Homo sapiens: one gene and its partner. The protein of the gene in region 1 interacts with the protein of each later gene in a pairwise test. Each region holds a gene or a part of one and is shown on either strand. Other genes may lie near its edges. The genes, in order: POM121C and STAT5A.

What was found.
Region 2: the proteins of POM121C (region 1) and STAT5A interact in a two-hybrid assay, tested with the Homo sapiens proteins (one large-scale study listed by BioGRID and IntAct).

Annotation. Positions count from the first base shown.
Region 1 is NC_000007.14:75,483,444-75,487,968, reverse strand, and holds the start of POM121C (nuclear envelope pore membrane protein POM 121C), read left to right. Parts: upstream 1-1,669; 5' UTR 1,670-2,105; intron 2,106-3,649; exon of another isoform or gene 3,650-3,771; intron 3,772-4,525. UniProt on the Homo sapiens protein: Essential component of the nuclear pore complex (NPC). The repeat-containing domain may be involved in anchoring components of the pore complex to the pore membrane. When overexpressed in cells induces the formation of cytoplasmic annulate lamellae (AL).
Region 2 is NC_000017.11:42,308,971-42,312,747, reverse strand, and holds the end of STAT5A (signal transducer and activator of transcription 5A), read right to left. Parts: intron 3,702-3,777; coding exon 3,650-3,701; intron 3,372-3,649; coding exon 3,264-3,371; intron 2,242-3,263; coding exon 2,079-2,241; coding exon of another isoform or gene 2,018-2,078; 3' UTR 805-2,017; downstream 1-804. UniProt on the Homo sapiens protein: Carries out a dual function: signal transduction and activation of transcription. Mediates cellular responses to the cytokine KITLG/SCF and other growth factors. Mediates cellular responses to ERBB4.

The DNA of each region.
Region 1 (4,525 bases):
TACAGAAAAGACTCCAGGTCTTTTCTGGAGAGTCTGACACCTTTTAAGATCCAATAAGAGATATTTATCATCTATTCTCTCTGAAGCCTGTTCTGAGGCTTCACCTACATAACAAGAACCTTGGTTTCCACAATCCCCCTTATCTTAACTCAAACTTTTCCTTCTTTTTTTTCCCTCCCTCTTTTTCCTTCCTTCCTCTCTCTCTTTTTCTCTCTCTCTCTTTCTTTTCTTCTCTGTTGCCCAAGCTGGAATGCAGTGGTGCCATCATGGCTCACTGTAGCCTCAACTTCCCAGGCTCAAGCGATCCTCCCATCTCAGCCTCCTGAGTAGCTGAGTCTACAGGCATGCACCACCACACCTGGATAATTATTTTTTTTTTTGTAGAAGTGGGGGTCTCGCTGTGTTGCCCAGGCTGTCCTTGAACTCCTGGCCTCAAGGGATCCTCCCAGCTCACCCTCCCAAAATGCTGGGAATACAGGCATGAGCCACCGCAATGGCCCATTTCTTTATGTAGTCTTCCAGCTGTTCAGCCAACACTTAACTCTGAACCAACTGCCAGTCTTTCAATCTACTAGTGACCTGAAAGCCTTTCCTGGCTGACCCAACATATACTTCCCATGTATTGATTTATGTCTTTGCCTGTAACTACTGTCTCCCTAAGATGCATAAAACCAAGCTGTAACCCAACTACTTTGGGCTCACGTTCTCAGGACCCCCTGAGGCTGTGTCACCAGCCATGGTCACTCAAATAGGAGGCCCAGAATAAAACTCTTTATAGACTTTGACTCTTTTTGGTCAACATAACCTAACCCTAAACATAATCCTCCTGGGGAAGGTAGGATCACAGGTATCTCTTCCTCGTTCAGTTTGTGTGTGTATGTCCTTATTTCTCTACGGTTTTTAGGCATTCGCTGTGTGATCTAGAAAAGCTATGGAGTCTCGCTTTGTCGCCAGGATGGAGTGCAGTGGCGTGATCTCGGCTCACTGCAACCTCCACCTCCCAGGTTCAAGTGATTCTCCTGCCTTAGCCTCCCGAGTAGCTGGGATTACAGGCACGCGCCACCACGCCCAGCTAATTTTTGTATTTTTAGTAGAGACAGGGTTTCATCATGTTGGCCAGGATGATCTCTATCTCTTGACCTCGCGATCTGCCCGCCTCGGCCTCCCAAAGTGCTGGGATTACAGGCTTGAGCCACTGCGCCCAGCTACAAATTCTATTTTCTTTTTGTTCCTTGGAAAGCATCGCTGGGCATTTATCCTGTCCCAGTATTTGAGTGAAACTTCTCAGCATTTCAGAGCAGTGACCATGATACACCCTTTCCTTTCCTTCTCCTTATGGGAAACTCCGTTCTAACCCAGAGGACTTGGGCTCCAGGACCCAGTAACGGAGCCCTGGATTTGACCCTAAAAGGGAGTAAAGACAAAGGTGAAGTTCAGTCCGGGGTTCAGGGCTGCCAAAGCTCATAGCCTGGAGCTTCTTAACCTTTAGGCAGGGTAGAGACATTTAAGACGGCCCCAAAACTGGGGGAGCGCGTAGGCTCCTGGGAAATAGAGTCCGTTACTTGTCCTGGGACCCGCGGTGGGTGTCCCGGGAGGCGGACTTCCGGTGCACTCCTGCGCTTGTGCACCTCTCCCTGCGTGCGTGTTCGCACATGCGCGCCACCTCCGCACTGCCCTCGCTTCCTGTGCCTCTTCAGGTCATCGCTTGCTCTCGTTCCCAGGCTTTGGCTTCTAGTGGACGAGAATCACCGAGTCTGCGGGGCTGGATGCTGACCGCCCGGACCAGCACCTAGGCGGGCGGGAGCTGTGCGGCCCAGGGTTCGCGCGGGCCGGGTAGAGGCTCGAGCTGGGACCCCCGAGCGTGAACCCCGGAGCCGGCGGCGCTGGGGCCAGAGGGGCCGGGAGCCCCAGGGAGGCGGATCTGGGCCCCGAGAAGGACACCCGCCTGGATTTGCCCCGTAGGCCCGGCCCGGGCCCCTCGGGAGCAGAACAGCCTTGGTGAGGTGGACAGGAGGGGACCTCGCGAGCAGACGCGCGCGCCAGCGACAGCAGCCCGCCCCGGCCTCTCGGGAGCCGTGGGGCAGAGGCTGCGGAGCCCCAGGAGGGTAAGTCTTGGGTTTTTGGGCCCGGAGCGAGAAGGGCCTGGGTGAAGTCACCTTGTGTTGGGGACCTTTGAGTGTGGGGCAGAGGGAGGGTCCCGATTGCTTGCCGGAGAGACATGTGTTGGGTTTGAGGGCAGGGTCCGGCTGCACCGAACAGGTGCTGCATGGGAAGATCTGGGAGGACGAGGCTTACGGAGGCGTGGAGGGTGTCACCACCCTCAGCTGCGGACGTCGTCTCCACTCCCCGCTAACCCCTAACAGTCCTTCCTCCTCCTCTCCGTGCTCCAGATTTCGACCGCCTCTAAACGTCCGTCAGCACTTCTATTCTCTCACTTAAGTGTCTGCTGATCCCCCCCCTTAGACCTGCCCTGGGAGAATCGTAGTAATGCAGGAACAGTCTGCAGGGATTCTCTGCTGCTGCCTCAGTTGCTAGGGGAAGAGACTGGGCCTTAGGTGGGTGACTTGACCAGGTCACCGGCTTTGTGGGTAGAGCTGCTCATAGTAGAACCCAGGAGACTTATCTCCCAGGCCAGTGTTCTTTCTCCCGTATCCTAGTTTTCTTAATAGAAGATTATTAGGTGCAGCAATAACCAAGTTCAGTTAGATAATTTAGAAACAAAACCATATTTTATACACATTCATTTCATTTCTGAGAGCTCACATACTCAATTCCTATGGCTTATTTTATTTTAAGCAGTTTAAAGAGACAATAAGAAAATGCGGGCGGGATGCAGTGGCTCACACCTGTAATCCGAGCATTTTGCGGGGCTAGGGCAAGAGTATCCCTTGAGACCAGGAGTTAGAGACCAGCCTAGACAACATGGGGACACCCTGACTACAAAAAATACAAAAGTCGCCAGGCATGCTGGGATGCATCTGTGGTCCCAGCTACTCAGGAGGCTGAAGTGGGAGGATGGATGGAGCCCAGGAGGTCGAGGCTGCAGAGAGCCGTGAATGCACCACTGCACTCCAGCCTGGGTGGCAGATTGAGACCCTGTCTCAACCAACAAACCACAAAAAACATGAGCCGTATAATGGGAATTTTTTTTCTTTTTGCGCCTTGTATTTGATGATGATGGCAGACTATTTGTAAAAGGAGTCATGTTACCCATGAGAGTCTAACTCATCTAATTACTACCTGATTATCTTAGAGTTACAGGCGCATGCTTCCCCTATCACTCTTTTTTTTTTTTTTTTTTTTTTTGAGACAGTGTCTCTCACCCAGTCTGGAATGCAACAGCGTGGTCTCGGCTCACTGCAACTTCCACCTCCCAGGTTCAAAGGATTCTCGTGCCTCAGCCTCCTGAGTAGCTGGGACTACAGGCATGTGACTCTATGCCTGGCTAATTTTTTTTGTTATTTTTAAGTAGAGACGGGGTTTTGCCATGTTGGCCCAGGCAGGCGGATCACTTGAGGCCAGAATTTGAGACCAGCCTGGCCAACATGGTGAAACCCTGTATCACTCTTTTAGACCCTTCTGAGTGTTTGCAGGTTGAGTGTTCACAGGGTGTTAGCCTATTGAGCTTTCTTTTGCGGTTCTTATGCAGGTGATTTCTGCCTTTGCAGGCCGGAGCCCTCATGACTTCAGTGACCTGCTTCTGCCCCTCTAGGTCTATCAGCCACAGTCTCTGCATGTTTCCAAGAGCAGCAGAAAATGAACACATTGCAGGTGAGTTTTCCTGCTTGTGTATATGTTCCTCAACTTTATTTTATGATGCATTTTAAGAGGTTTGTAAGGATTCATACTTTTTTTTTTCTTTTTTTTGAGATGGAGTCTTGCTCTGTTGCCCAGGCTGCAGTGCAGTGGCATGATCTCGCTTCACTGCAACCTCCACCTCCTGGGTTCAAGTGATTCTCCTGCCTCAGCCTCCTGAGTAGCAGGGATTACAGGCGTGGGCCACCATGCCCAGCTAATTTTTTGTATTTTTAGAAGAGATGGGGTTTCACTATGTTGGCCAGGTTGGTCTCAAACTCCTGACCTCAGGTGATCCTCCCGCCTCAGCCTCCCAAAGTGCTGGGATTACAGGCATGAGCCACCGAGCCCAGCCAGGATTCATACTTTAAAATGGGAATGTGGAAATAGACATTATCCTGTAAAATATAGTTAGTGTGGCAGATCAGCACCAAAAATGATTTGTGAAGCTTGTATGTATGGGTAGTATATTTTAAGGCTGTTGAAATTGAGCCGCACCTAGGACTGATACTCTTGGCAGTCATCACAAAAGGAAAATGCCATCTGTATTAGTCCATTCTCACACTGCTATAGAGAAATAACCAAGACTGGGTAATTTATAAAGAAAAGAGGTTTAATTGGCTCACGTCTGCAGGCTCTATCATAGGAAGCGTGGCTGAGGAGTCCTCAGGAAACTTACAGTCAAGTGAAAGGTGAAGGGAAAGTGGGTGCATCTTCCATCACCAGAGCA
Region 2 (3,777 bases), on another chromosome or scaffold:
CAGAGATGGATCAGATTAGCCCCCTGGGGCGGTGGCACCTGCCCGTCCCCTCCCCTCCTCTCTTCTCCCACCCCCGCCTTCCCCCTGCTCTGGGCCCCCTGCACCTCCCTCTTGGGGCCCACGCGCCGCCCCTCTCCCTCGCTTGAGCTCTGAGCTCAGAAGGAACCTGCCCGCAAACCTGGCTCCCAGCCCCGCCCAGGGAGCGCGCGTCCCTGAGCCCAAGGGCCCCAGCGACAGCAGGGACTGGCTGCAGCCGGCAGTGCGGGGGTCCAGCCGGGGCGAGCCGGTCCCGCTTGCTGCACCTCCGCCTCGCACAGTCGCCGGCAGCCAGCTGAAAACAGCGCAGCCGCGTGGTGCCACCTGCTGGTCTCTGGGAAGGAGGAGGATGGGACGGTTGTTGCGGCTCTGGGACTGCCCCTGGCCCCGAGGGTTGAGAAGCATCTTGGCGCCGGGCCCTCAGCCGCCAGCTTCGAGGCTGCTGGGAGCAGCAGCTGCTAAGGAGAAGCCTGGGTCAGAGTTCTGCCCACCCGCGCCCATCTCCATCATTTCCCCAAACCTCGAGTCCCCTGCTTTTTAAGGAATCTGTGCCCCCTAAACTGGCTCCTTACCCTTCTGAGAAGCATTGACAGTATTCCAGGGGTGGCCAGCACCCTGAAAACCACAGCAAAGCGGGCAGAGTTAAAATTTAAGACTAAAAATGACAGCATCAGGCATGCACGCGGGAAGGAACAGAACAACCAGCTCCAGGGGTTCCCATCACCCAGGGAGGCCACCAACGCCCCAACCAGGAGCCATAGCAGCAAATTTATGAAAAAAATATTTTATTCCAAAACACTGTTTACACAAATGTGTGGTCTTTGTACAAAGTACAAAAAAACCCCTCTTCTCATCCCCACCTCCCTTCAGAGAAGTTTAAACCTTGGGCTCTCAATCTTCCATGGTCAGCTGCCCCTGACTGCGAGTCCTACAGCCTCAGAGGGAGGAGCGTGTGGGGTTGGGAGCAAGGCCTCACCAGAACACAGCCAGTTACGCAACAGCGCAAGGCCTGCTCCAGGCCCCACCTCCAGCGGAGTCAAACCAGATCAGCTTTTACCCCTCACTCCAGATTCCACAGGCACGCAGCACATGGCTGATTTGCAGCTTGTCTTTCACTGCAGTTTTTTGTTTTTGTTTTTTCCAGGAGGCAAGAGGACCAACCCTCCAAGTCCCGGGGCCCCTGTCCACCCACCATATCCTAGACCCAATCTTTTCTACCTCTTTGTCGACAAGGTTACAAACAGAGAGGCAAGCAAAGAAGGCTGGGGCCCAACGGAGGGGAGAGAATATATATCCCGGGAAACGTGGGCAACAGCATCATAGACTTGAATGAAGCCCAAGGCCAAGCAGCCAAGCAAGGACTAATTCAGAGCAGCTCAGAAACCCTCACTCAAACCGGCGGCCCCCCTGTGCTAAGGACATGGCCGGGCCCAGACGCGCTCTCATAGGGTTCACAGAGAGTCTGGAGTCCACGTTCACTAAAGTATAAAATACTACTCGAAAATGAACCCCAGCCTCCCTTCTGAGAGATGAATCGGTTACATCAACACATGAGGACAGATGCATTTACATAGACCCACACACTCTCTCTTTCTCTCTCTCTGTCTCTCTGTCTCTCTCTCTTAGGAGGGCAAAGCTTCTCACTCCGGAGTGAAACTTCAGCTTACAGACGTTACCTGTCTCCCCTCCCCTTCTGAATCATCTCATTCAAATAGCTGCTGAGCAGATGAGGGGCCCAGGAGGAATAGGTCTGGCTGCATTGAGTGCCTGCAGTGACAGAGGCTCGGTCTCTACCATGACAGAGACAGACTCGGCGCACTCTTGGATGCCATGATCTGAAAAGAGGCCACCGCTGCTGCAGCCACATCCCAGGACTGCACAGGGGAGGCAGGCGTAGCTCATGCACAAGGACACACACACACACACACACACAAGCACATGCATGCCTGCAAAGGTGTCAGTGTACACAGCCTTACTAAACTCACAACACGACCGCTTCACATTGCATATTGTTTCCAAAGAGAAGCGTGGGATTCAAACATTCATGAGAGGGAGCCTCTGGCAGAGGTGAAAAGACCGGCAGGGGGCGAGAGGCGGGAGTCAAGACTGTCCATTGGTCGGCGTAAGAGTTCCTCCACGTGCCTGGCCACATCCATGGTCTCATCCAGGTCGAATTCTCCATCCTGATCGAGTACATGGTCAGGGCTGGTAAAGACAGGGGGATGTCAGAGGGAGCTGGCATGTCTCACAGCCTCAAGCTCCCTGGGGACAGCCTCCAGCCTGCTCTCCACTCAAACCCGTCTCATGAGAACAGGACCAGTTCTGGCTGGATGCCCCCACCCCACCCCAAGCTGGGTAGCAGTCAGCCCACTGGCTTCTGCAGACCCCCACTCTATTCGCATCTCTTGCTAACTCACTGAATAATCTTAGGGAATTCATTTCCCCTCTCCGTGTCCTCATCTTAAAACCAGGTGGCTGACACAGTGGGCTCTGCCCACCTGCAATGATGCTCAGCTGCAATGGTAGGCACCGCCCCGTTCACTGAGCACTTAGAACAGCTGAATCTTTTCACTGAGCACCTAGAACAGCTGAGCCTATTGAGCACATGACTCCAATTTTTACAGCCAACTGGAGAGTGGGTATTGACCCCGTTTTATAGACGAGAAAACCAAGGCCATATCAGGAAGCTTGCTCTGGGCCACCTGGCTGGGAGGTGGTGGAGTCCGGATTGGAACCTGGGATCTTCAGTGGTCCCACTGGAAGGTGGTACCTCCCAGACATCCAGCCCTGGCTATCCACAGTGAGGAAGGGAATTAATTATCTACCTTGTTCCCACCAGACTCAAGAACAACCACCCCATTCATAGCTACCCTGTATCAAGCCCTTCCAAGCCCCTCCCTGTGGAAATGCTTCACCCACACTGTCTCAGTTTAATGCTCATCCCATTCTCATGAGGCAAGCATTCTTGCCTCCGTTTTACACATAAGGAAACTTGAGCATCAGAGAGGCTCAATCATTTTCCCAAGATCACACAGTTAGTACTAGAGTGAGGACTTGACCCTGCTATGTCTAGCTTCAAAATGCTCTGTTTTCCTGGCTGATCTCACTCCTCCTGGACTTGGGCCTAACCAGAGCTCTGGATCCTTTGCCCGCCAGCCCTCCAGGAGTCCAGCCTGGGGCCAAGTCCCCAGTTCTTCCCCTGCGGACCCCATGAGAACACCACCTACTTCTGTGGGTACATGTTATAGGGAGCCTGGGGGCACACAGCTGGGGAGGGGGCCTGGTCCATGTACGTGGCGCTGCTGCCCCCAGCATCTGCAGATGCATTCACAAACCTGCAGAAGGAAGAGAACAGAGCTTCAGCCACCAGGGAGGCCGGGGCAGCTGACTTGGGGAGGGGACCGAGGGGCATGTTTGTCTTTCTCGGGGTGTAGACGGACAAAGTGCCCCACTCGGCCCTGGGGCTCCAGCTACAGGAGAGGGGACTCCCTCCCCAGGGCTGAGACAGGTTCCCTGGGGGAGCGGAAAGCTGGGCCCAGGATCAGGATGGGAGGCAGGGTCTGGGGGAGGAGGAAAGAGGCAGAAGGAGAGCCACAGCCACCTGGACACTTACTCAGGGACCACTTGCTTGATCTGTGGTTTCACATATCCATCAACAGCTTTAGCTGTCAAGGGAAGAACAGTGGTGAGAACCAAAGTCTCTGGGAACTCCCAAGTGGGGTGGAAGCCCACGCCCCATGT